7 linked regions of the Homo sapiens genome follow. The protein of the gene in region 2 purifies or fractionates together with the protein of the main gene of each other region. This does not show direct contact. Each region holds a gene or a part of one and is shown on either strand. Other genes may lie near its edges. The genes, in order: FTSJ1, RAB11A, CIP2A, VPS13C, EXOC6, CHM and TM9SF2.

Region 1 (3,500 bases), on a different chromosome or scaffold from region 2:
GGCCAGCTGCCCCTTCCTCTTCAACGTGCAGGCCTCCTGGTATGGTGGCGAGATGGGGGGCTGTGTGGGTGGAGTGTACTTGTACTCTGAGCCGCCCTCTAGCTGCAGGGACAGAGGGGTAGGGAGATGGTGAGGACCTGGTAACCTAGGACAGCCTCCCTCCCACCCACCTACTGTTGGTTGGGCACTCACGTCCAGTGGGTAACTGCGGTCCGAATCATAGGAGCTCAGGTCCCCACAGGTCACAAAAGGCACAATGATGCGGGTGGGACCATCCAGCTGGTTGAAATCTGGGTCTTAGGAACAGGGGGAGACAACTGAGGACAAGGTCAGGATGCCTGGGGCCAGTCATGACACAGGCGGCGGTATGGCTGCCAAACCCTCCCCACATATCCACCAGCTACTCTCTTCCCACCCCACCAGAAATCCTTCATTTGGTTCAGATCACCTCCTCGGGGAGGCCCTCCATAATCACCCCTTCTAAAACATCGGTGCCCTGCTATTTTTCACTGCATTTATGTCCACCTGATATTGGATTATATGCTGCCTGGATGACGTCTCCCTCACTCAAATGTCATCCCAGGGGCAGGCTCTGTCTCTTCCTGCTAGAGGCTTAAGGGGCAAAAGTTTCACACCGAGGAGGTTTCCACCTGGGACATGACTGAGATCTTCCTAGGAGAGAATGTCCTTAGGCAGGTGGAGTCTCCACTGGGGCAGGGCTCAGGATCCTCCTGGGATGGAATTTTCACCAGGCCCAAGAGTTACCACTAGAGGACTGCCTGGGCTGAAGCTCCTCCCGGGACAAAATACCCATAAAGGGGTGGGATTTCCATCAGAGAATGGGGCTAAGGATCCCCTTGGGAAAAAAATTCCCATGAGGGGACAGAGCCTCCCCCAGGGGGTGAGACTGTGGGCCCTCATGGGACCTAGATTGCATAAGGTGTGGCAGAGTCCCCCAGGGTGGCCCATGCTCCAGCTCTCACCGTAAGAATGGTCCAGCAGGGGTTTGCTCAGGTCCGGGATGAAGCCCTCGGGAGGGTCATAGCCCTGACAGACAGCGAAGGCCTCTGCCAGGGGAAGGTGGAGTGAGGCATGACTGCCGCTTCCTCCTCGTGCAGTCGGCGTCCCAGAGATCCCCCTCTGCCTGCCTGGCCCCTCCACCCCACTGACCGATGCTAGAGTTCCGGCTGCTCCTGGGCTTGGCACACAGCACGCTGGAGAAGAAGACCTGCAGCTGGCTGTAGAGGAGCGTCACATCCCGGCCTCGGAATATCTGCAGGGTGAGAAGGCAAAGACAGCGGGTGAGGGTGGCCCTCAGCGACCTCCCTCTACTCCACCAAGTTCCTTGAGACTTACCTTGGCCACAAAGCAGCCCCCTGGCTTCAGGACATGTGTAGCAATGTTCAGAGCCTGTGGGCAGGACAGACGGCTGAGGCTGAGGTGGAGACAGCCAGGAGGGGGCCAAAGTGGGTCAGGGGTGGCCAGGGTTACTCACAGCTAGGAGGAGCTGGGCCTGCATATACTCATCAACATCATGGAGACCGGTTACTGTGGCAAGAGGAACAGCGTTAGGGGGGTCCCATCTGGCTCTGTGCATCTTCTTGTACCACACAGATCAGACACTAAATACATTTTCCAGGCTGTCTTACTGCTAAGGTTCCAGATGCAAATTACTGTCTGCCAACTGGATGCATATTCTGAGCTCCTAACCCTTAGGAACTCATTTCAATTCTAAAACAACCTCACACACAAGCATCATTATCATTTCCACCTCCAGCCCAGACTGTTCCTCTGAACTCCAGATTCACAAATCAGATTCTACATCTCCAATACATCCACAACCAAACTCCTGACCTACCTCCCCAAACCTGCTCCTCCCACCATCCTCCCCATCTCATCTGAGCTTTCTAATTGTTCAAATCCAAAACCTTAGTCACCTCTGATGCTCCCCCCGCATCCTCTCCTCACACCCACATCGAAGCCATTAACACATCTACTTTCAAAAGATCTGACTTGATCTTCTCCTCTCCACCACTGCCCTCACCCATTATCACTTGCCTGGACTACTCCACCCCGGAGCCCCTGCTTCTGCCCTTGGCCCTCACACAGCTCATAGTAGCCCAAGCCCAGCACAGTCCTCTTCTCCTCACAACCCTCTCATGGTTTTCTCCAAGCTCTCATCTCGGTGAAAATGCCAACAGCCTCACCATGGCCCACGAGGCCCTATAGGATCTGTCCCCTGTTACCTCTCTGATGTTACCTTTTACCACTCTCCCCCCCTCACTCTGTTCCAACCACAGTGATCTGCTTGTCATTACTCATACATAGCAAGCACCCTCCTGCCTCAGGACCTTTGCACGGGCTGCAATTTTTCCTGGATTGCTCTTCCTCCAGACATATCCATAGCTTACTCCCCCACCTCCTTTAGTCTCTGCTGTTAAGTCAGTGAGGCCTTCCCCATCCACTTGATTTAAAATTCCAACAGGTACTCCTGCTTTCCTCCTGCTCAATGATTTCCCTATGGTACCCATCCCCCACCCCACCTTTTTTTTTTGAGACGGAGTTTCGCTCTTGTTGCTCAGGCTGGAGTGCAATGGTGCGATCTCAGCTCACTGCAACCTCCGCCTCCCGGGTTCAAGCGATTCTTCTGTCTTAGCCTCCCAAGTAGCTGGGATTACAGGCACATGCCACCACACCTGGCTAATTTTTGTATTTTTAGTAGAGATGGGGTTTCATCATATTGGTCAGGCTGGTCTCGAACTCCTGACCTCAGGTGATCTGACCACCTCAGCCTCCCAAAGTGCTGGGATTACAGGCGTGAGCCACTGTGCCCGGCCTCCTCACCCCGTTTTTTTAGAGAGAGGGTCTCACTCTGTTGCCCAGGCTGGAGTGCAGTGGTGCGATCAAAGTGTACTGTAACCTCGACCTCTTGGGCTCAAGTGATCCTCCCACCTCAGCCTCCTGAGTAACTGGGACTATGGGCATGCATCACCATGCCAGCTAATATTTTAAGACAGGGTCTTGCTATGTTGCAAGGCTGGTCTCAAACTCCTGCCTCAAGTGTTCCTCTCACCTCATCCTCCCAAAGCACTGGGATTACAGGTGGAAGCCACCATGCCTGGCCCCATCCCCTTTTAATGGTACAGAGCTGAATCATTTATTTTCTTTCCCATTTGCTCCCACTAGAACATCAGCTCCATGAGGTTAAAGATTAATGGAATTTTATTCATGAATGTTTTCCCAACACAATAGGTGCTCAGTAAATGTGTGTTGAATGGCTGGCTGGCTGAAAATGAATGAACAGTGCAACGGAATTGGACAGTTGCAGAGAGATGAGAGCAGGGAAAGGTAGACAACAGACATGAAACTCAAAGGGTGGGGTGCAAGTGGGAGGAAGAGAGAGGCAGAGAGAGAACAGGCAGCAGAGGTAGGGAGAAGTTGCCAGATGTGGGAGAAAGCTGAGTGCGGAAGGGAGAGGCAGGGAGTAACTGAAGAGGTGA
Region 2 (4,148 bases):
CTTTATATAAGTAGAGATGCAGGTCTCACTAGGTTGCCCAGCCTGGTCTTGAACTCCTGGCCTCAAGAGTTTCTCCTGCCTCCATCTCCCAAAATGCTGAGATTACAGGCATGAGCCACCATGCCCGACCCTACTTACACTTTAATATTTACACTTTAATAGATTAAAAATAATAGCAAGAGAGCTGGGCATGGTGGCTCACTCCTGTAATCCCAGGACTTTGGCAGGCCAAGGCAGGCGGATTGCTTGAGCCCAGGAGTTCAAGACCAGCCTGGGCAACATGGCAAAACACTGGAGAGAGGTTTTGCTCTCTCTATATAAAGAATACTAAAAATTAGCTGAGCGTGGTGACACACACCAGCAGTCTCAGCTACTTAGGAGGCTGAGGTGGAAGATCACTAGAGCCCAGGAGGTCGAGGCTGCAGTGAGCCTTGACTGTGCCACTCCACTCCAGAATGGGTCACAGAGTGAGATCCTGGCTCCCAAAAAAAAAAAAAAAAAAAGTGAGAAATTGTCAATTGGCTCCTTAATTAAAATAAATACTTGTTATATCTAAGTACTACTCACTAGTGACGAATGACACCACTTAAAATGTGGTAAAAATGTATCAAGTGCCCAGTTATTTCCATCTCTTGCTATCCTCTCCATCAACTACATTGGCTATAGTATTCCGTATGTTGTAGCCATATTATTTACAATAAAGCTATTCTTGCATGGGAAATTTAAAAAACTGTTACAGAAAGTTATTCATAGCATAAGCATTAGTGCAAAGGCAAGACTTTCTCTCTTTTTTTGTTTGTTTTGTTTTGTTTTTTTGGGACGGAGTCTCGCTCTTTCGCCCAGGCCGGACTGCAGTGGCGCTATCTCGGCTCACTGCAAGCTCTGCTCCCGGGTTCACGCCATTCTCCTGCCTCAGCCTCCCGAGTAGCTGGGACTACAGGCGCCCGCCACCGCGCCCGGTTTTTTGTATTTTTAGTAGAGACGGGGTTTCACCATGTTAGCCAAGATGGTCTCAATCTCCTGACCTCATGATCCACTCACCTCAGCCTCCCAAAGTGCTGGGATTACAGGCATGAGCCACCACGCCCGGCCGCAAGACTTTCACTAGCCACAATGCACAATGTTGTCTTCTGGCATGCTGTCCCTACCAGAACAGGGGCAAGAGACACGTGAATTCTTTATGAAGCCAAAAAGTTACAGCTCCTAAGCAGCTGCATCCCTGTTGGTCCCTGACACTCCCTGAGCCTCTGCCTTTCACTCACATAGAGCTCACGTACAGCAGCCTTTGTAAACACAGAAACATAACAGAAAAAGAGACAGAATATACAATGTTTATATTCATTTTTTGGCAGCAAAATATTAGTGTTTTAATGACTCAAAGCAAAAAAGCTATACAGTCATCACAAACTTTCAAAACAATTCTTGCTAAGCATTCATGTTTACCTCTCTGAAACTATTATAACCTATTACTCTCATTGGAAGGTATCAAAACCACAAGACACAATGGTAAGAAATATCATGGAATTCCTATCACTAACCTGCAAAAGCTCTTGCTTCATCTGTAGGAACTGCCCTGAGATGACGTAGATCACTCTTATTGCCCACAAGCATGATAACAATGTTACTATCAGCATGATCTCTCAGTTCTTTCAGCCATCGCTCTACATTTTCATATGTGAGATGTTTAGCAATGTCATAAACCAATAAGGCACCTACAGCTCCACGATAATATCTGAAAACAGAAACATATTTAGTATCAGAAAACCACAAGATGGAAGCAAACACCAGGAAGAACTCAAAATATGGATCATGAGTTTTAAAAACATACTTATAAATAAATTTCTAAGGATTCCTAATACTAGAATTCTTAAAAGAAAAAAACAACAGTTCTTTTTCCAATACCAAAAGTCAGCTAATTCACTCGATGGCAACCCATTTCACAGAACTTAAAAACCATGAGACTTACGCTGATGTTATAGCTCGATATCGCTCTTGCCCTGCTGTGTCCCATATCTGTGCCTTTATTGTTTTTCCATCAACCTGGATGCTTCTTGTTGCAAACTCTACTCCAATGGTGCTCTTGCTTTCCAGATTAAACTCATTTCGAGTAAATCGAGACAGGAGATTACTCTTTCCAACACCAGAATCTCCAATAAGGACAACTGGAAAGACAAAGAATTCAATGTCAGATGAATGAGGCAAACATATTCAGAACACCACTATGCTTTCAACAGAATGAAGTTTGGCTTCAGAGTAAATAAAGCAAGAAAAATAAGGTATATGACTTTTAAAAAGGAATGGGGGTAGGGGGTTGAACAGCATGTTCTTGACCAGTTACCAATCAATAAAACCGATTTATTCTTTTCAACCTGTTTCTACCTGCATGACTTCCACATATCATCTGCTTAGCACAGATACGGTACCCTGTCTTAAACATGCAGTTTTAATCACAGATGCCCTTGGCATTGATGACAGGCATTAATTACCGTCAATGCTATGCCAATCTTACTACTTTAGAAGATAACAACTTCAAAGATAAATCCTAAACTAAATGAATAATTTATGATATTAAAATGTAATGTATCAGAAATGAAAACAACAAAGGCTGTTAGTGGGTAGGGAAGGACAAAATGAATATACTTCGTTTCATCAAAGACTGGGTGTGACCTCAGGACTGAGACCTAGGCAAAATGAAAAACATTTAACATATGAGGCATAGGGTTTATAAACATCACCATACAGATCACAGAAACTAAAATGACCTTTAATAGTTGCATTTATCAGATTGGTTCAAAGTTAGAGACCCCTCTGCCAAAAAAACCCAAGCCACTACAGATAAACAGGGGGTATTAGGAAACTAATAATTCTGACATACTGTGAGTCAAAACCAAAGCAAGTGCCGGGTGTGGTGGCTCACACCTGTAATCCCAGCATTTTGGAAGGCCAAGGTGGGCGGATTGCTTGACGCCAAGAGTTCGAGACTAGCCTGGCCAACATGGTGAAAACCCCATCTCTATAAAAATACAAAAATTAGCCAGGTGTGGTGGTGGGCGCATGTAATCCCAACTACTTGTGGGCCTGAGGCATGAGAATAGCTTGAACCCGGGAAGCAGAGGTTGCAGTGGGCCGAGATTGTGTCACTGCACTCCAGCCTGGGCGACACACTGAGACTCTGTCTTAAAAAAATAAATAAAATAAAATACAACAAAGCAAGGAGGGCATATACTTTCACTTATGACTCCATGATTTTTTTGAAAATAGGTCTTGATTAGATGAATTTGCTTCCTGTGATTTCTATAGGCAGCAGTTTATTTACTAACTAGATACATGGAGATTCTTTTTCACTCAAAGTGGTATTACGCTTAAGAATTTCAAAAACAATGGAGAAACAGGCAGTTAAGTTGTTTTAAAACATTTTCTATCTGAATTTAAAGTTCAAAATGAGTTCACACGTTTATAGAATCTGAGCTAGATATTTTTTCCTTTGTAAAAATTGGTATCAGCATTTCAGGAAACATTACATTCGTTCCTACTTTTGACTACTAAGACTTCTTCTTATCTAAACTAGCTAATTGATTTAGACATCAGGACTAGAAAATCAAACATACAAAAATAAGGCCAAGGAGTAAGACCATTCCTTACTAAAGAGACTGGGATGGTGGTACGAGTGGAAAGAATGGTAAAAACTGAGAGCTCACTGCATTCTGGTCAGAGGGCAAAGAGAGTCCATTATACATTCCCTCCTTGCCACAGGAGTGGATATAAGCTAGCCTCTGGACAGTCTTGGACAGAGTACATTATCAAATGCATATCTTTCTGGCTTTCTCAGTCAGCTGATTCAGCAAGAAATCATTCAGGAGGCAGTGAATCCAATGCAGCACAAAGAATGGTTATTTCTAACTAGAGAGTCAACTAGAGGGTGTCAAAGATGCTGTGGCAAACACATACATGCTTTTATTTGATATCAGAAGAAAATGTCAAAGTTATTAAAGTGATGTACAAAAGCAATGCACTTTCAATTTTATAGGATGGTTAGTTGATATACTAGTTTCCAAGGTCCACCATTCTGGATATGAAGTCAAATCTCAGTTTCAGTTAATAGTCTATTATTAATAGGATACATTCACTGTTGCCTCTTAGTACAAAAG
Region 3 (4,148 bases), on a different chromosome or scaffold from region 2:
GAATTGGAGGGTTATCATAAAGAAAATAAGAAAATAGCCATATCATACCTTTTTTAATAATAAATTCATATGAAATAAATTCTGTATGAATTATCTGCAAAACCTTGTAAGAAAATGATATATTTTGTGCTTTTATTTTAACTTATAGCAGTAGACATTGAAACCAGAGATTGTCTTCAGAATACATATAATCTGAATAGTGTGCTGGCGGGAGTGGTTTGTCGGAGCAGCCACACTGATTCGGTGTTTTTGCAGGTATACAGACCCACACAGTGTATTCCCCTTTCCTTACTGTCAGATCAAAATTGATAGTTTCTGTCATAAACTGCTGACTTACAGTGTATATATGCTATATAATAAATACTACATGATTAGGCACAGTTCATCTCATTAAAAGCTGGTTGCACACATACAATTTAAATGTTTCTAGAGAAGAGAAGCTTATCCATTTCTATCACCACTATTGAAGAAAAACAAATCTACATTATAACTGCTTTGACTTATAAACACAGATGTCTGTGTTTTGAGACATAAGCTATTTATATTAAAATTGTAACGTGAGTTGGCATCTAGTCTCAATCTGTGGAGGAAACGTTCTACAAAAATTAAAGCTGTAGATAGAGTCTATTTAATATAGATTCAAAGCTCTTCATATTTCATTGACTCTAAAATGTCATCAATTGTAAGAAAGAAAAACATCACAAATTAAATTGACATGCAGTTTTAGAGGTGATAAAATGTGAAGAAGGGTATCTTCTAATTGATGGACTACATGTGTGTTTCAAACTGCATTCAAGTTTAAGATGACTAAGTGAACAAGGTTGATAACCATGCTCTGAGACAGAATACGTAGAAATGTGTGAATTGAGAGAAGAGCCCTAAGGTTCTTACATTACTTTACATGTGTTTTTTAAAAAAATTGTTTTAGGAAATGGAAAAGGACATGCTCAGAATGTGCCTGAGAGTCCATTATTTTAAGCAGGCAATGTTTTTATATCTTTATATTTATAACTATTTTCTTATTCTCAGTGCATTCAACTTCTACAGAAGTTAACATATAATGTCAAAATTTTCTATTCTGGTGCCAATATAGATGAATTAATTACGTTCCTGATAGATCACATGTGAGTATGCAATCAAACATAAAACCAAATAGTTTATTTGTTTATTTTTAAATTACAACCATGTGGTAGATTAATTTTTCTTAGATAACATTTTCTAACATATAAACTGAGTGAGACTCCGATTCTTATTTGTTCTGCCCAGATGATTTTAAGGATCAAAAGTTGTAAAAGTATGTGACCTCATTCATTGGTGAAAAAATGTAAAAAGGAAAAAAAAATTGTAAAGCAACTTTAATTTTCATAAGAAAAATTTATGGACTGAATTGATTTGGCCAGAAAAAAATTACTGAAATTGAAAATTGTGTAGTTATTCTTGTAGGAAAATATACTGATGAAACAGCACATGGTCCACGCTGACAGTTACTTCCATGTTTTCATGATGGAATTGAATAGGGTAATTTGGTTTTAAAATGAGATAAATGATCAATACTATTCAAAGCTTCCCTGGCTTCTTATGTTAATTAGTTTTTTTTTTTGCGTGTAAAAGGGAATTGAAATGTATAAACTTAACTATATCATTTTGACTTAGAATAATGTTAATGCTTTTTTTCTTTTACTATTTTTTCTTTAAACAAAACACCAATGTAAAACAACAGTCAATCTTCTGAAGATGAGTTAAAAATGCCTTGTCTAGGATTATTGGCAAATCTTTGTCGGCACAATCTTTCTGTTCAAACGCACATAAAGACATTGGTAAGAAGTTTATTTCTTTTTAATGTTTCTTGTTTTATGGTAGATTCTCTGCTTAAAGAAAATTGTATTTATCTTTTTCTTTAAAACAAATTTGAACAAGGATTCTGTGTCTTATCGGATGACCCATCAAAATTAAGAGTCAGATTGACATACAAATAACTTGAAGCACTTCAGCCTTCGTGTATGTTGTATTGAAGACTGTGTGTTAAGGGTTAATGCAAACACTTATTTCTAAAAGTTTTCCTCAGCATGGCATCCCATTATTTATTACATTGAGTAGTACAAGAATTACTAAATTATTTTGTGCTCTTAGAAGGGAGGCACATCACTGGCAGTCCCATTTATCTCAGTCTTGTGTTTCCACAAAATCAATGGCAACCCCACCAGAAAGATTCATGAGTTAAGTGCTCAGTATGAACCAACAGTACTTGTGATAAATGAAGACACACAAATGAATTTAACTGAATCACTTTTAGAAGTATATTAAATCAGCTGGGCATGGTGGCTCACACCTGTAATCCCAGCACTTTGGAGGCCAAGGCAGGCAGATCACAAGGTCAGGAGATGGAGACCATCTCGGCCAACATGGTGAACCCTGTCTCTACCAAAATACAAAAAATTAGCCAGGCGTGGTGGCACACGCCTGTAGTCCCAGCTACTTGGGAAGCTGAGGCAGGGGAATTGCTTGAACCCGGGAGGTGGAGGTTGGAGTGAGCTGAGATCGCGCCACTGCCCTCCAGCCTGGCAACAGAGTAAGACTCCATCCTTAAAAAAAAAAACAAAGTATATTAAATCAAGCAAGTCACTGATTCTTTAAGGTGCTTGGTGAACAATTTCCCTGCTGTGCTATTCAGCATTACCCGTTCGATTTTAAATTTAATATCTCACTTGTTCAAGTGCTACATTTTTCTGCCCTGGTCTTACTTTGGAGGTGGAGTAACTGTGTGTGTGTGTGTGTGTGTGTGTGTGTGTGTGTGTTTCAATTTCTGAATTGAAAAAAAAGTTCATATGTTCATATTTAGGAAACACTTAAATATAAGGAAGAATAAACATTTGCTCATAGTTTCATGTGTAGAAACTGCTCTTCACCAAGATTGTGGCTATCTATATGACTGTCAGCAATATACGAAACTACCCATCTTGCTCACACATGCAGTGATCTCTTAAATCTAAATGCTAATCAGCAAATATGGCAAAGTTAATTGCTGCTCCACGGTGTGTAACGTAAAACAAATTCTTAAATTTGCTGAATTTTTTTTGCTTCCACCACAATTATGAGAGTTCCTCATTACAGTTCTTTTGTTAACACAAATGCTAACAAATGCTACAGTTCTTTTGTTAACACAAATCCTGCAGTATTTAAGGTAGCTCTTTTGTTTCCACTCTGCATGTGTCCCTTTATTAGAATTGACACCCTGATTTACCATCATTGAATTATTTATTCTAAGGTGACAAAACTTTGGAAATATTTATCTCCAACTCGTTTGCACGCATTTACCAAATTATTTTTTTCTGTAGGTACTCTCTTTATAACAATTTTTGAATTTAAATTTATCTCTGATCTAAATTTCTCCTGTAGAACATTTATCTTTTAAATGCAACAATCATTTAATAGAGTTGATAATGATGTTTAATAAAAGTTTGCCCACTCTGTGCAAGATATACTTTTTAAACCAAAACATAAAATTTATAATTCTAATTTATTTTTTAACTTTTTTTTCCTCAGAGTAATGTGAAATCTTTTTATCGAACTCTTATCACCTTGTTGGCCCATAGTAGTTTAACTGTGGTTGTGTTTGCACTTTCAATATTATCCAGTTTGACATTAAATGAAGAGGTGGGGGAAAAGGTAAATACAATTTTTCAAATTTATTCTGAAGTTTATAGTCTGATATTTTAAAAGTCATTGAGACTTTTTTATTTTTACCTTTTAGGATGGTGTCAACTTAATTTTTTGTCTAATATGCTTTTTCTAATTTGTCCTTAAGCTATTCCATGCTCGAAACATTCATCAGACTTTTCAACTAATATTTAATATTCTCATAAACGGTGATGGCACTCTAACTAGAAAGTATTCAGTTGACCTACTGATGGATCTCCTTAAGAATCCTAAAATTGCTGATTATCTCACCAGGTATGACTCACTTCAGTCAATTTTAGAACTTTTTTATTTTTAAACCAAGATGTGTTGGTTATAAACAGAATTGTCTTCTTAAAATATAATAAACTTGGATTCTACTGATTCACAGTAGACTAAAATGTTTTGATGTGCTTTACTCACACTCTTTTTTCTTTCCTGAACTGAAATGGAAAGTATAACAGGTCATTGTC
Region 4 (4,148 bases), 3.8 Mb from region 2:
GTATGTTGAAATGCCTCATCTTTTGCAATATGATTTGAGTAGTATTGTTGCAATGTAGAACCTTTGTCAATTTGATTTTTCAAAATGATTTACTGTGGAGAGTCAGCAGGAAAATCCTCCAGTACTCGGAACTCTGTTGTTCTTAATTCCACTGGACAGGTGGAATCAACATAGGAACTGTGATGTGTTAGATACAAGGGTGACTCTGGTGACCAGGAATAGAAGCCAAGTGCAATGCCCTCAGAATCTGTGGCCCTGCAAACCAGACTGAACCCGTGCTGTTTATCCCACTCCTGACAGTTTATCCCACTCTTGACACTTCCCCTTGAGCTGCCAGATATTGTTGGAGCAGTGCAGCATAAGAAAGGAGAATGAACACTGGACTGGGAATGAGCAAACCTCTTTAATCTTATTCCATCTCTGATTCTGTCTAGTTGTGTGGCTTTTGGCATGTCTCTGACAAGTGACCATTGGTTGCTTATCTGTAAGTGGAAAGGTTAGACAAGGTCATCTCTTCTGTCTTTAAACTTCTGTGATTTGAGCAAGGCAAGAACAACGTGAGATCCTTCATTGGATGAGTGGTACTGCCACTTCCTCCGCATTCATAGAGAGAAAAGGTAGTTAAATAATGTATCTTTATCTTTCCTTTTTGCTCTTCACCCGATATTGGTGAGTAAAGAGCCACAGTCAATGACAGTGACAAGATAAATGAAGTTCCAGGCTCATGCTGATATTTGTGGGTCCAAGTGTAATATACTGTAATATATTGTCTTAACAGGTACCTGTAGGGCAGCTTGAGAATGAAAGAAAAAGCAGCTCTTTTTGCTTTTTTTGGCTTTGACACATAAAAGATGTCAGTATCTAGGTATTTCTAAACCTGTAGAGGGATTTTCTTTAGTCTTTTCCTCCCAGCCAGCACTTGGTGTAGTGGAGGCCACATTTCTCATTAGCTTGTCCTATGGCATATAAAAGTAAACAATAATGAAAAGGTCATTAGTGTAATACATATTTAGGCTCAGTTACTACCAGTTAAAGCGGTGCTTAAAAATTTAAATTTAAGCACCTGTTCACATATTTAAGTAGCATTACTAATTAAAAATTAACTCCTTTTCTAGAACTAAAACTGAGAATTGGTATTTTGGTAACCATTCTGCTAGGAAGCTCTACCACATTACTCAATATTATGGGATCCCTGAAGTGAACTGAAAGGGAGAAAGTTCAGTGGTGATGTTGCAGCTTTCTACCTTCCTTTGTCAAAACTTCCTGTTTCAGTAGGGAAATGGGAAGAGTGAGAGAGTTGTTTCCTTTCTCTTTCCTGTCTTCCTCTCTGAAGACAAAGTCACTGTGAACTCATTAAAAGGAGTCTAGATTGGTTAATTTGGGTTGACTAGCTAGATTCATTTGAAATGAATAGCTATAATATTTTCTTTGGTATTCTTTTTTTTTTTTTTTTTTTTTTGAGACGGAGTCTTGCTTTGTCGCCCAGGCTGGAGTGCAGTGGCACAATCTCGGCTCACTGCAAGCTCTGCCTCCTGGGTTCACGCCATTCTCCTGCCTCAGCCTCCACAGTAGCTAGGACTACAGGCACCCGCCACCACGCCTGGCTAATTTTTTTGTATTTTTTAGTAGAGACGGGGTTTCACCGTATCAGGATGGTCTTGATCTCCTGACCTTGTGATCCACCTGCCTCAGCCTTCCAAAGTGCTGGGATTACAGGCGTGAGTCACCGCACCAGGCCTGGTATTCTTTACTAAAACATAAATCATTAAAATAATTTGATTCATGCTTTGCTTTAAAAAACTGTTCAGTCATCTACTTTAGCTCACCTCCCTGGAAAATGAATTGTGTCAGAACATTCAGATATGCTTTCAACTAAATAATGTTTATGTTATAGATACATAAACAAAATCTTAAAAAATAAATACAAAGCATTCTTTATTTCACTATTCTTTATATGCAAAGCTAGTTTCATGGATTATGGCATGGCATTTTTGTTTGTTGGATGGTTTTTGTGTTTAATCACAGTTTTGGATTAACCTCTATGTTTTATATTAAGAAAGTTGACCTAGGAGTTGGGAGACATAGATTCTATTCTTAGTACTGCCACAAAAAAATTGTATAACCTTGGATAAACTACCAGATCTCTTTAGACTTTAATTTCTTCATGTATAAAGTGAGAGGGGCTTAGATTTGAAAATCTTTATGGTCCCAAATAGTTCTAAATCATAACTTGTGAATTTCTGTCTTTTGAGGAAAAAAATAGATTTTTAAAAAGTACTAAAATGACCATTTTGTAATACCATCTCCTGCATCTGTTTTTCCCTGTGGCACTACGTTTTCTTCTGGTTATGCTCTGAACATAACCCCCTTGACTCTATCCTACCGTTCTGCCTGTGCCCTTGTTATACTAATTTTAGTTATCCTTTTTGTTTTGGATTTTTTTACGTCTCTTTGCAAATACAGAGACCAAAAGTGGAACCGACAACCACGCTGGCCTGTGAATGCTGAGTCTGATTCTTTTATGGCATTTTTGTTGTCCAGGGAGGTCGAATTACCTTCTGAATTAAAATCCTATACGCTTTATGCTCTGCTATTCGGGAGAACAGTGTTATTCTGAAGATAGCATTGAGTTTTATAAGATTTGAGCCTTGAGACTGCCACTTACTATTAGGTTGCCATAGGATTCTTGGGCTAGTCATTTAACCTCTCTAAGCCTCAGCTTCTATTGCTTAATGTATACAACCTGTTTCTTGCCCAGGAGGCTGTGAGGATTGAGTAATGTTATACATCTGAAAGTGTTTTCTAAAATATAAAGATTTATGACCTTATTGTAGTTGGTTCCACCCCAGTACAATATGCATTCTGAAGTCAGTATTTATCGAGTACCTACTCTGAGGAGAATCAGTAAGAAGTTTATAATCAGACTGGGGATTTATATAAAGTTAAGTGTTACGCACCATAAGAAAGCTATAGCCTAAATTTCTGCAAAAGTTTAGAGAGATTATTTCTGGTTGGAGGTACTTAACAATAGGACTATATTTCTTACATTTATTTTGTAGGCCATTATGTATTTAAAAAGCCATTCTTGGACTTAGGCAGGCTTTTCCTTATTGTGCTAGTACCATTTGATTTTTATTCATAAATACACTAGCTTGGTTGTTTTCTATAACTAGCAACTATTTCTACTTTTTTTTTTTTGCGATGACTCCAACTCTTCATGTCATTTGCTAATTTACTTCCATTTTCATCTTCTGGTTCACTGTTGAAGAATACTAAATTTTGATCCAGTTTTGATCCAGGATTTACTTTTTTTTTTTTTTTTTTTTGAGACTGGGTCTTGCTCTGGCTGTCACTGAGGCTGGAGTGCAGTGGCATGATCCTGGCTCACTGCAACCTCTGCCCTTCTGGTTCGAGTGATTCTTCTGCCTCAGAATCCTGAGTATCTGAGATGACAGGCACCTGCCACCATGCCTGGCTAATTTTTTTGTATTTTTTAGGTAGAGACAGGGTTTCGCCATGTTGGCAAGGCTGGTCTCCAACTGCTGGGCTCAAGTGATCCAATCGCCTTGGTCTCCCAAAGTGTTGGGATTACAGGCATGAGCCACTCACTGCACCTGGCCCTTTTAGTATATTTCTTAAAATATCTTTCAAGATTGGCTTTGAAACTATGGTGACTTTCTAGCAGTGTATGCACATCCAAAATATATGTAGTTTATTAATGAGAATCATATGGGGTCTCTTCTGAAGCACAGACTACTTACTGTGTATATTGTCTACCCTCCTCCCATGGGCCTGTCAGTCCAGCATAAGGGAGATCGCTTCACAGAATTTCCTTATCTGTCACCTTAGTCTGTTTAGACTTGGTAGGATTAGAGCCACTTGATTGTGGGATTGGCTTTAGAGCTTTCCTTGCTGGCAGAGTTAAGTTTATTCATCTCCAATTATTAGTTAACATATCCCTGTTTGTTTTTTGTTTTAAAGGATTAGACACATAGAGTGTTGGAAGTTCTGGCCAGGGCAATTAGGCAGGAGAAGGAAATAAAGGGCATTCAGTTAGGAAAAGAGGAAGTAAAATTGTCCCTGTTTGCAGATGACATGATTGTATATCTAGAAAACCCCATCGTCTCAGCCCAAAATTTCCTTAAGCT
Region 5 (4,148 bases), on a different chromosome or scaffold from region 2:
ACTGCTTATGAGATGGCCCAGATGTTGGATGTAGCAGACTTCAAAGCAGCCATAATAACTATGCTCACAGAACTAAAAAGAAGAAGCAAAGGAAAGTATGATGACAATGTCTTACCAAATAGAGATGGATAAAGAAGTAGAAATTATTTTTTTTAATAATTGGAAATTCCAGAGTTGAAAAGTCAGTAACATAAATGAAAAATTCATTGGAGGGTCCCAACAGTGGATGTGAATTGGCAGAAGGAAGAATCAGTGAATATACAAGACAGTCTGATTATGCAATCAGAGAACAAGAGAGAAAAAACAGTAAGAGAGAAAAAAGAACAGGAGAGAAAAAAGAATAAGGAAAATGAACAGAGTCTCAAATAAATGTGGACATCATTAAGCACACCAGCATACATGAGATGGGAGCACCAAAGTAGAGAAGAGAAAGGAACAGAATGACTATTTAAAGAAATAATTTAAAATTTCCAAAATTTGATGAAAAACATTAACCTACATATCTAAGAAGATCAACAAACTCCAAGTAAGATAAACATAAAGAGATCCATATCCAGGTACATCATAGTAAAATAATGAGAGACAAACGGAAAATCCTGAAAACAACAAGAAACTGCTGATTACATAAGGGAATTCCAATAAGATTAACAGCTGACTTCTCATCAGAAATAATGAAGCCCAGAGGCAGTGGAAAGACATATTCAAACTGCTGGCCGGCGGAGGGGGGGAACCCGTCAACTAAAAATCTTACATATGGTAAAACTATCTTTCAAAAATGAAGATGACATAAAGACATGCCCAGATTTTAAAAAAACAGACAAACAACAACAACAAAAAAAACAGGAAATAGTTTCAAGCAGACCAGCCTTACAAGAAATACAAAAGGAATTTCCTCACGATTAAGAGTGAACTCAGATGACCATTTGATCACACACAGACACACAGACCAGACACACACAGACACACACAAAGAACACCAGTAAAGGTAACTATGTAATTATAAAATACAGTATAAATGCATACTTCTCATTTCTTATCTGATTTGTGGAAGCAGTTGCATAAAACTACATGTACATAATTGTATTGGTGGCATGCAACATATAAAATATATATAGAATATATGTAATACAATGGACAATCACAACACAAAGGATGTATGTGGGAGCAAAGCCATTCTGGAGTAAGAAAATGACACAAGATGACAACTAAAAACCCAGCAACAAATGAAAAGAATCAGAAACAGTAAATAAGAAACTTAATATAACAAACTTTAAAAATACATATTGGTCTCTGTTCTTCTTTCTGCTTCTTTAAAAGACAAAAAATTATAAAAAGTAACAATTATAGTAATGTATTATTGTAATAACACAAAAAAAGGGAAAGAAGGAATATAGCTATATAAGAGTAACATTTCTATACCTTACTGGAAATTAGACTAATTCTGAAGTAGATTCTGAGAGCAACCACTAAGAACTAACTTTTTTCTAAATTCCCAAAAAATCACTAATTAAAATATTACACCAGAAAATATTTGCTTAATGCAAAAGCAGCAGTAAAAAAGGAATAGAGGAGCAAAAAAAAAAAGGAAGAAAGAAATGAGACATAGAACACAAGAAAAACAGCAGATGTGAATCCAACTATGTAAATAATAACATTAAATATGAATAAACAATCAAAAGGCATAGGTTCTCAAATTGGATAAAAATAAGATCCAATGATGTGCTATCTACAAGAGATACACTTTAGATTTAATGACATATTTAAAAGTAAACAGAAAAACATATATCATGAAAAGAGCAACTATAAGAAAGCTGCAGCAGCTATACTAATATCTGACATAACAGACTTTAAAACAAGTCTAGAAATAAAGGATATTTTATGACGGCAAATGGTCAATCAATAAGGAATATATAAAGTATAAACATATATGCATCTAACAACAGAGCCTGAAAAGACATAAAAACTACTCATCATTCAATAATGGATAGAACAACTAAGCAGAAGACCAAAAGGGAATAGGAGACGTGAACAATACTCTAAGCTAATTAGACCTAACAGACCTCTATAGAATACTCCCTCCAACAACAGTAGGATACACAGTCTTCTCAAGGGAACATGGAACATTCTCCAGTACAGACTATGTTAGGCAATAAAATAAGCCTCAATAAACTTAAAATAAACTGAAGTCATACAAATTATTATCTCTGACTGCAATGGGATTAAATTAGAAATTAATAACAGAAGGACATTTTAGAAATTCACAAATATGTTGAAATTAAGCACACTTCTAAATAACCAGTGAAAGAGGAAATAATAAGGAAAACTAAAGATATTTTGAAGAAAGGTAAATGAAAACACACATGCCAAAAAGTTTTAGATGAAGCTAATGCTGTTCTTAGAGAAAAATTTATAGCTGTAAAAACCAATATTAAAAAATAAGAAAGATCTCAAATTAATAACCCAAACTTCCATCGTAAGGTTGGGTTCCATCATAATAAAAAAGAGAGCAACCCAACCCAAAACAAGCAGAAGAAAGAAAGTAATAAAGATTAGATCAGATGTAAATGTAACAGAAAAACAATAGAGAGGCCAGGTGCAGTGGCTCATGCCTGTAATCCCAGAAATTTTGGAGGCAAAGGCAGGCAGATCACCTGAGGTCAGGAGTTCAAGACCAGCCTGGCCAACGTGGCAAACCCTATCTCTACTAAAAATATAAAAATTAGCCAGGCATGGTGGCATGTGCCTGTAATCCCAGCTAGTCGAGAGGCTGAAACAGGAGAATCGCTTGAACCCAGGAGGCGGAGGTTGCAGTGAGCCAAGATCGCGCTACTGCACTCCAGCCTGGGCAACAGAGCAAGACTTCATCTCAAAAAAAAGAAAAAACAAAAACAATAGAGAAAAAAATCAATAAAACAGAGAGTTGGTTCTTTGAAAAGATCAACAAAATTGACAAACCTTTATCTAGAATGACCAAGCAAAAACAAAGACTCAAATTACTAAATTCAAGAACAAAAGAGAGAATGTTACAGAAATAAAAATAAGAAAAAGTTATGAGCAATTATATGTCAACAACTAAAATAATCTAAATGAAACACAACAAATTCCTAGAAAGACACAAACTATCAAAACTAACTCAAGAAAACTAGAAAATCTGAGTATACCTTTAACAAGTAATGAAATGGAATCAGTAATCGAAAACTTCCCAACAAAGAAAATACACATGGCTTAACTGGAAAATTTTACCATATATTTAAAGAATTAACATTAATCATTCACAAGCTCTTCCAAATGTGGAAGAGAAGCGAACACTTCCTAACTCATTCTATAAGGCCAGCATTACCCTGATACCAAAGCCAGATAAAGACATCACCAAAAAAAGAAAATTACAGAGCTGGGCATGGTGGAACATGCCTGTAGTTTCAGATACTCAGGAGGCTGAGGTGGGAGAACTGCATGAGCTCCAGAGTTCAAGACCAGCCTGGGCAATGTAGCAAGATCCTGTCTCAAACATAAATTAAAAAAAAAAATTTTCATGCCAGGCACAGTGGCTCATGCCTATAATTCCAGCTACTCGGGAGGCTAAGGTAGGAGGACTGCTTGAGGCCAGAAGTACAAGATCAGTCTGGGCAACACAGTGAGATTTTGTCTCTAAAAAAATTACAGAAATCCCTCATGAATATAGATGTAGAAATTCTCAATAAAATACTAGCAAACCAAATCCAACAGTATATTAAAGAGGATTATACACTATGGCCAAATGAGATTTATCCTAGGAATGCAAGGGTAATTAAACATGAGGAAATCAATCAATGTAATGTACCACATGAATAGAATAAAGGGGGGAAAAAACCCAAATACTCATCTCAATTGAGAGAGCACCAACTCATTCTATGAGGTATCATTCTCATATCAAAGACATCACACACACACACACAAAAAACAGATCAAAATATCTTATGAATACACATGCAAAAATCCTCAACAAAATACTAGCAAACAGAATCCAACAACATATAAAAAGGATTATACTTTATGCACTATGATCAAATGGGATTTATCCCATGAATACAAAGTTGGTTTACATCTGATAATGTAATATACCATATCAAAAGAATAAGGGACAAAACCACATGATCACCTCAATAGAT
Region 6 (4,148 bases), on a different chromosome or scaffold from region 2:
AGAAATATAATAATAAACACCAGGCTTTATATATATATTCCCTTACCCCTTTTATCAAGTTCAGTGTACGTTTTGCTTATGTGACTCAGACATTAAACATTCATCTGTTAATGTTTCAGTAAAATATGAAACAAAATTAAGATTTGAAAGATATAAAGATTTCATGTCACATGCACATTTTTGAGAATTTAAGACAGACAGGGGAACTGTATTGGAAGCAAATTACCACAGTGATGAAGAACACAGTCTTCAGAATAACAGATCTTGGTTCAAACCCTGACCATATGACTAGTAAGCTCTGCGAACTTAGATACTTATGTATCCTCTCTGAGACCACCTAAATTACCCTCAATTTAGGTAATTACCTAAATTACCCTCTCTGAGACCACCTAAATTACCCATCTATGACACAGAGATAATACCACCTACCACAAGGTTGTTTTGAAGATTAAATTAAGTACTGCATGCAAAGAGCCTGACACAGTGCCTGGGACATAGTAAATACTCAACAGTGGTAGTTATCAAAGATGATTATTACTGAGGAATTCCTGACTTGGTGATACGACAGAAGACCTTCAATAAAGGGAAAAATATCTGCCTTGAAAAGATTAAGTTGGCCTATCACAATGTGGTATCTAATAGGACCTTTCTGTATAATTTCCTGCCTATTTTAGTACTGATGTCTATTACTCTAGTCGAAGCCCCATTTCCAAATTTATTATTGGAGCTAACATTCTCAGTCCACCATTGTCTTGATTTATAGAACAGGCTCCCATTCAGTCTGCCTGCTTTATGAATTTCTGTGATATTTTATCCTCCACAGAACCCACTATTTTCACTGAGTTGCCACACTGCTCAATACCTGGCAGAATGCCTTGTATGTGATTGGTCTTGGCAAGTAAAAATCTGCTAGTTGACTAACAGTAGCCCTAACAGTAGCCCTTCCTTATATCAAATACCCCACAAAAAAATCTTCCTTTTCCTGTCTCTAAACCAAACCACCTTCCTTATTTACTAATCTTCTGGTTTCATCTCCACCTACTTTCCAACATGGCATCTCTAACTCCGAATTTATCAATTCTAATTGTCAAATCATGACAGTTTGGTTCATATCATTTGTTTCTTCTGTCCTTTTCTTCCCACTCTGCATAATATCACAATTCTTCCATTCTCAAACATAATCACATACTTTAGCAAACTACTTTAAGAAAAAGTTTAAATTTAACTTCCAATTAGTCTTCCTTACTCCAATTACACTCATCACTCTATTATACCATGCTCCCATAATACACATATGCAGTTTACCTTGCATGTATTTATCCATTCCTTTTTAATAGTCCTTTAGTTTTCCAGTATATCCTTTATCTTCCAAATCAGACTGTAATTCCTTGAGGGAATACCTTAGCACCGCTCCTTCTGTGCCCCTCACGACACCTACCACACTGCTCCATAGATGTGGTATCCAATAAATGCTTAATTAATAATGGTTTATACGTGCAGACTATTTTTGTTTCAAATGCGAAACAAACTTGTTGCAAAAAACACAAAAAATAAGGCCAAGAAAAAAACACGGTATTGTAAATTAGAAAGTCCGAGTTAAGTGAAAAAAAGAAGTGCCTTATTAAAAATAACACAATGAACACTACAAAAAAAAATGAGGGACAATGATAGAATAACACTCAAATGTCAAGAAATAAAATGCCATATTTACTGTTATAGTAATTCTAATAAAATCTAGTGAAGAAACAAATTGATATCATTAATGTTACATGAATATTTTTGAGATCTAGGAAACCAAAGTGAGGAAAACACCCACTTTGTTCTATCCTAGATTTATCACTTAGGAAACACTTGGCAAGTCATTTAATCTCTCTGATTCACCACATATAAAATGGGGATCAGTCCATTTGCCTTACCTTTTATGAAACTGTTGTGAGATAAGGAAGCTAACATATATGAAAAGTAGTTTATAAACTCTAAAAGGTTAATCAAAGATAAGATACTAATCAGGCCGGGCACGGTGGCTTACACCTGTAATCCCAGCACTGTGGTAGGCCGAGGTGGGTGGATCACTTGAGGTCAAGAGTTCAAGACCAGCCTGACCAACATGGTGAAACCTAGTCTCTACTAAAATGCAAAAATTAGCTGGGCGTGGTGATGGGCACCTGTAATCTCAGCTACTTGGGAGGCTGAGGCCAGAGAATCACTTGAACCCAGGAGGCGGAGGTAGCAGTGAGCCAAGATCGTCCCATTGCACTCCAGCCTGGGCAACAAGAGCAAAACTCCGTCTAAAAAAAAAAAAAAAAAACTACTCAAAAATAAGATATTGTTAAACTGCCCACAGCTCAACAGTCAACTCAAAACCTGTATACCTAGGTTTTCTGCATTCACATGACAAAAGCCCATTGGCCATATAAGCACATAATAGCATCGCTATTAACAGCATTAAGAATGAAGAGTCATAATATGAAAGGTGATTTATATATTTTCTACAGAATTGTTCACACTCTTATTCACTTTTATTATCTTGAAAACCAACAAAACTAAAGTGTGTTACATGAGGGATCTAAGGGGACAATTTTCAGCAAAAGTTCCACACCTAATTTTTTGTTTTTCAGTAAAAGTTCCATGCCTAACTCTTAAAGCAAAAGTTCCATGCCTTTAATTTTAAGAAAGGATAATTAATTACACTTTACAGATAAGACAAAATATGGCAACTTCTCTTATTACAGACTATGATGATGACACTGTGAAAACTGAGCATAGCAAATGATCTAGTCAGTGGTTCTCTATTACATTCTGTGATGGGGGCCCTATAGAGTGAATGAAATACATTAACCAGTACTGGACAACCTGGAAGATATAAGTCAAAATACTTAATTAAAGGTATAAGCGAAGAGAAGAAATTATTCTTCGGAAATTTTTTCTACATCAATAAACTATCGTTTTACTGTTCTCAACATTATAATTTGGTGAGATTCCTAGCACTACGGAAAACACAAGCAATAAAAACACAACACTGTCCTCACTTTCCATTAAAAACAACCACAGTATTTTTGGAGTTCTGCCAAGGTTGAAGTTAATACCTAATGAGAAAATATAAAGACACCCAAAAGCTCCTAAAACTCCACTGACATCCTCAGAAAGCAAAATTCTGTTCATCTAAAAGGGTTATCTTTCCCCAAATTTAAAACTTTATACTGTGGTAAAAGACATTTTCTTAAAAAGATATTCAACCTTTCAGAGAAAACCTCAGAATCCAGTAATAGTTCAATTCTACTAATTTAAAAGTGTTTGAAAACTATAAAAACACATTTACCAATTACAAAACAATGTAGCTGCATTATAAGCCTTCAAATGAACCTTGGAGTTCTAAGATATTACAATGATTTTAACATACACAGGTGCTCCTCGACTTATGATGGGGTTACGTCCTGATAAACCCAATATAGTAAGACAAAGTGCATTTAATACCCCAATAAAACCATTACAAAGTTGAAAAATCATTAAGTCGAACCATCTTAAGCTGCAGACTGTTTATCTAAAGGAAAACAATCTGCATCATTAGTTCTTATAAAAATGTTCACTATCAAAATTGATTTCACAAATTAAATTTAGTGTCATTTACATTGCTAGCTTTAATTCCAAAGGTCATTTATAATGTAACAATATTTTTTAGATAATTTTTCTTAATAAAAACTGCTTAACACTGCTTTTTGTAAATGCATTTTTCACTAATTGCCAAAATTCATATACTACTCTGAGAGTTTGGAGGTATATATTCTGATATCATCTAGTACTGCTTCCCAATTAATAGTAATAACAAAGAAACACCTCAAAGTAAATGTGTCTTATGAATACCTTGTAACAGCCTTTTAGAGGAATCAAATGAAAAACTGAGGAACAGGTGTTTAATTTATTCAGCACAGGTGTTCACCATTTATTTTTCAGCCATTTGCACCTTCTCTTACCCAATACGACTTGCTGCAGACATTGTATTCTTTTACTTTGATGTTTATACTTTGTTCTAAGGCCATTTATTTCTGATTTTCACAGTATATATTATACTGCTACCCAGCTGTTTATTCCTAAAATAAATGTTTAATGGCTATTCATAAGAATTACAAAAATCAGACTATTCAGAAATT
Region 7 (4,148 bases), on a different chromosome or scaffold from region 2:
TCCTACCATGCAGCTCTACACAATCTTAGTAATATTTACTGTACTGCACCAATCTGATCATACATGAGGCAAACTTCACTTTGGAAGTTTCTTCTCAGAGTCCAGAATGAGAGATCACATCCTTCCTGTGATCAGGGGAGGCTGACTGGATGCTCAAGAGTGCATTTGACTCTTCTGAGATTCAAGTACAGCCTTTAAAATTGACATAAGTGAAAATGTTTCCACTACAAAATATTCCCACTGTTCTTTCATTAAAAAATATGGGGGTCCTCTGGGGGTAAAAAAAAAAAAACCCAAAACCTTACAACATTCAAACAGAAGAGACATATATAATCTAATGAAAGAACAAAATGAGGGAGAAAGATTTCATACGGCCATTAGCTTTTCACAAATTACGGAAGGACCTTGTCAGCAATACGGGGAAACCCTGGCCCTACCTTATTCACGTGGTTAGCTTTGTTTGCTCTTCCCTATGTAAGCCTTCCTACTAATGAGAATTAAAATGCTATATTATATTCATAGAAATTCCCAGCTTTAAGCTGGGGCTCAGAAGTTATAAGGTGCTCAGAATCCCAAGGTGAGTAGGATACTGCTGAGAACTGAGTTTCAGGAGGCTCAGCAAGAAAATCCCCATTGTTTCCCCCCCTATTGTTTCCCCTAAAACGTGCATGACCAAGCACGTATGTGAGCAAGCACGCGCACACACCTCTGACAAGCACCAGAGTCATGATGAGCAGGAAACACATCAGGGTAGCTTTAGAAGATGTACAAGATTTCAGCTAAAATGCAACCCCTTTCTCCTCCTCGACCTGAAAAATGGACTGCCCTTCGGCAGAAAGTTCCTATTTGAGGACTTAAGGAAAATTATTCCCATCGTATTCTATCCTAGACTCTCTGAAACTTTCCTTCCTTAAAAGTTCACTTTTCTAGCTGACCGCAATAAAAACCAGAGCATCGCAGAAGACAGCTCCTAATAAGATTTGAAAGCAGGAGTTGGCTGGGTGTGGTAGCTCACGCCTGTAACCCCAGCACTTTGGGAGGCCGAGGCGGGCGGATCACGAGGTTGAGAGATTGAGACCATCCTGGACAACATGGTGAAACCGTGTCTCTACCAAAAATACAAAAATCAGCCAGGCGTGGTGGCAGGCGCCTGTAATCCCAGCTACTCAGGAGGCTGAGGCAGAAGAATCACTTGGACCTAGGAGGTGGAGGTTTCAGTAAGCCAAGATCACGCCACTGAACTCCAGCCTGGTGACAGAGCGAGGCTCCGTCTCAAAAAAAAAAAGAAAGAAAGAAAGCAGAAGTTTATCTTCAAACATTCATTCTGCTCTAAGTCTAGTTTGGCTCTCTGTCACCCAGTGCCTTCACCCTACCACCCTCTGTCCAAACCTTTTTTATGACACCTTTTCCTGACCTATTCTCTTTAGTATGACTTAACTTCTCTTTAGTATGATATAGTTACAAATTCTAGCTCTACCTATCAAAATTGTATCTCCTTAAGTTGTTAGTAGATTAAAAAAAAAAGATATCCTAGTCAGTCTTCAAACTGAACCTGAAGGTGTGAGTTTGGTTCCCAAACTTATTCAGTGCCAGACATTTGAAAATGATACTGCTCTTTGCAAAGCATTTATATAATTAATTTTATCATAAAAATTTGGAACAACTTTACTAACAAAAATAACTGTGGTATTATGTATTTAATATGTAATCAAACATAAAAAATAAATGTTTACTAAAAAATTATTAAAGGTTAGTTTCTGAATTCTCCCAGTATATTCATTTGTTGCTATTTATCAGTAGCAGGCATCAATAAAGTAAAATACATTAAATAAAGGTAAAATTTAGAAAATTCTATTCATAAACCTTTTTTATCTTCCAATTAAGGAAACTGGAAGACAGTGGAATTAACATATACCCAGAGGTAGTTTCAGAACAATCCCTGTGGCTATCAATACCTCTAAGGAACATTTATTTAAAAAAAAAAATTGTCCTAGTTGGCAAAAATTTAAATACAATTTCTGAAGTCGCTGAGGTAGCTCAAAGAAGAGAATCTTTTTATGGAGGAAGGAAGGTCTTTCCTACACACTCGCTTTCCCTAGAGGAGAGAGATCCTGCTTCCCAAATCCTCCCCAGATGAGAAGGATCTACACAGTGCTTCCTGCCCCATCCCTTCTTTTCCCACCCTCCTCCCTCCGTGGAAGCCAAGAATATCCTGGAACCCTAACCAGACTGTGCCTGCCCACGATGCCTGGGTAAAAGAGACCCTAAATGGTCCCAGTTCTGGGCTGTTTAGACTCAGATGCTGATGGTCTTAAGGACCTGTTCATCTCCAGCCCAGTGCCTCCCTGACAAAGGCTTGGTCTAGGAAGAGCTGAAGGGAGAAACCAAGAGTCAGTCTTTGGGTGCAACTAAACCTGCCCCAAGTCACTTAGATTTTGAGAACCTAAAGGATGCTCAGAAATAATCTGGCTTACCTACCCACTTAGAAAAACTGTGGTGTTTTTTGTTTTTTTTTTTGAGATGGAGTCTTGCACTGTCACCCAGGCTGGAGTGCAGTGGCGCAATCTCAGTTCACTACAACCTCCGCCTCCCAGGTTCAAGCTACTGCCTCAGCCCCACAAGTAGCTGGGATTACAGGCACCTGCCACCATGCCCAGTTTTTGTATTTTTAGTAGAAAGACGGGGTTTCACTATATTGGCCAGTCTGGTCTCAAACTCCTGACCTTGTCATCCACCCGCCTTGGCCTCCCAAAGTGCTAGGATTACAGGCATGAGCCACCATGCCCGGCCAGAAAAACTGGTTTTTAAGCAATTACTGTATTTAGAAAGTATTTTCTACTTGAAAATTTTCAGTTAACACTTACATAGAGTCACAAAGGTCATAATTAAAATCTGTGTCCCGGATCCTAGAAAGACTGATAGCAGCATCCCTTTTCTTGGAGGACGGAATATATCACCATGAACAAGTTTCCAGCCAAATTCTTCCTGGGCATCTTCCTAAAAGGGGAATGAAATCAGTTCGATTGTCTCATGGTATCAACAAGACAACTATAGACAGTTTGTTCACTGTTGAATATGCTGTTACAGAAAACAGGTTTTTTTTAAACTTAAAAATGTTAGTACCTATTTCAATTTTGAAGAATACAGCTTGACTCATGGAGCTTAATATGGCTTTGCTGAACTGTCTTATATGTCAGTTTCTTAAATTTATGACATTAAGGTCTACAAATATACTTATTGAGAAACTTTACAAAGACAATGTGATTGCTACCTAATTCTACTCTAAGTCAAGCTTTGTGATCTGACTTGATGACGATTTTTAGTCACATTCTATCCTCTTCATCCTACTCTTAATGATCTCCACAATAAGCAAATGGCATTAGCTCTCATATTCTAGCTACTTTGCTAATACAGTAAGCATGGATGTAAACATTCATTGAGCACCAACTATAAGCTCGGCTCTGTTTAAAACACCAGATACCACAGTGAGTGTAACAGAAAAATTCCTACTCTCAGGAGTACATGATCTCATTGGGAAGGCAGACAATAAACAAAATAAGTCAGGAAAGTATACTGTACATTAGATGGTAATAAGCGCTGTACAGAAAAACAGGATGTATGGGTGTGTGCAGGACAGGATGTAACATATGTGATGGCTGGGAGGGGTTCAATGGGAAGATCACATTTTGTAAAGATCGGAGGGAGGTAAGGGAACTAGCCATGTAAATGAGGGGCAGACCTTCTTAGCAGATAAAACAGTGAGCTTCGTGAAGGCTCTGAGGTGGAAACCTATGTCTGCCTGGTCTGAGGAACAGCAAGGTAGCCGGCACAGGTGCAGCAGAGTGCTGAGGTAACGTGGGGCCTTAGAAGCCACTGTAAAGCCTCTGACTCTTGCTCTGACTGAACAGAAGTCCCTGGAGGGCCGTGCTCAAGAGTGAAATGATCTGACTTCTGTTTGAGCAGTTTCACTCTGACTGCTGTGCTAAGAGATGGGAAGTAGGACAGGGTTGTGGAAGCAGAGTCACCACTGGCCTGGTTCCACATGGCAACGCTGTGCAAATTAAGATAAAACTCCATTAACAGCAATTATGTGGAACAGCCAATTATAAACAGAGTATTTTAAAATCATTTTAATATTTAATAAGACA

Evidence for each region.
Region 1: the proteins of RAB11A (region 2) and FTSJ1 purify together in Homo sapiens (co-immunoprecipitation; one large-scale study listed by IntAct). This does not show direct contact.
Region 3: the proteins of RAB11A (region 2) and CIP2A purify together in Homo sapiens (affinity purification with mass spectrometry; one large-scale study listed by BioGRID and IntAct). This does not show direct contact.
Region 4: the proteins of RAB11A (region 2) and VPS13C purify together in Homo sapiens (affinity purification with mass spectrometry; one large-scale study listed by BioGRID and IntAct). This does not show direct contact.
Region 5: the proteins of RAB11A (region 2) and EXOC6 purify together in Homo sapiens (affinity purification with western blotting, with the first as the bait; one study listed by BioGRID). This does not show direct contact.
Region 6: the proteins of RAB11A (region 2) and CHM purify together in Homo sapiens (affinity purification with mass spectrometry; 2 studies listed by BioGRID and IntAct, with this or other methods). This does not show direct contact.
Region 7: the proteins of RAB11A (region 2) and TM9SF2 purify together in Homo sapiens (affinity purification with mass spectrometry; one large-scale study listed by BioGRID and IntAct). This does not show direct contact.

Annotation. Positions count from the first base shown.
Region 1 is NC_000023.11:48,479,199-48,482,698, reverse strand, and holds part of FTSJ1 (tRNA (cytidine(32)/guanosine(34)-2'-O)-methyltransferase), read right to left. Parts: intron 1,549-3,500; coding exon 1,496-1,548; intron 1,411-1,495; coding exon 1,357-1,410; intron 1,274-1,356; coding exon 1,171-1,273; intron 1,068-1,170; coding exon 984-1,067; intron 297-983; coding exon 193-296; intron 103-192; coding exon 1-102. UniProt on the Homo sapiens protein: Methylates the 2'-O-ribose of nucleotides at positions 32 and 34 of the tRNA anticodon loop of substrate tRNAs. Requisite for faithful cytoplasmic translation.
Region 2 is NC_000015.10:65,875,346-65,879,493, reverse strand, and holds part of RAB11A (ras-related protein Rab-11A), read right to left. Parts: intron 2,163-4,148; coding exon 1,967-2,162; intron 1,733-1,966; coding exon 1,539-1,732; intron 1-1,538. UniProt on the Homo sapiens protein: The small GTPases Rab are key regulators of intracellular membrane trafficking, from the formation of transport vesicles to their fusion with membranes.
Region 3 is NC_000003.12:108,579,084-108,583,231, reverse strand, and holds part of CIP2A (protein CIP2A), read left to right. Parts: intron 1-148; coding exon 149-255; intron 256-1,029; coding exon 1,030-1,124; intron 1,125-1,720; coding exon 1,721-1,817; intron 1,818-3,543; coding exon 3,544-3,666; intron 3,667-3,805; coding exon 3,806-3,951; intron 3,952-4,148.
Region 4 is NC_000015.10:62,049,984-62,054,131, reverse strand, and holds part of VPS13C (intermembrane lipid transfer protein VPS13C), read left to right. Parts: intron 1-4,148. UniProt on the Homo sapiens protein: Mediates the transfer of lipids between membranes at organelle contact sites. Necessary for proper mitochondrial function and maintenance of mitochondrial transmembrane potential.
Region 5 is NC_000010.11:92,854,603-92,858,750, reverse strand, and holds part of EXOC6 (exocyst complex component 6), read right to left. Parts: intron 1-4,148. UniProt on the Homo sapiens protein: Component of the exocyst complex involved in the docking of exocytic vesicles with fusion sites on the plasma membrane.
Region 6 is NC_000023.11:85,964,059-85,968,206, forward strand, and holds part of CHM (rab proteins geranylgeranyltransferase component A 1), read right to left. Parts: intron 1-4,148. UniProt on the Homo sapiens protein: Substrate-binding subunit of the Rab geranylgeranyltransferase (GGTase) complex.
Region 7 is NC_000013.11:99,542,712-99,546,859, reverse strand, and holds part of TM9SF2 (transmembrane 9 superfamily member 2 precursor), read right to left. Parts: intron 2,998-4,148; coding exon 2,865-2,997; intron 1-2,864. UniProt on the Homo sapiens protein: In the intracellular compartments, may function as a channel or small molecule transporter.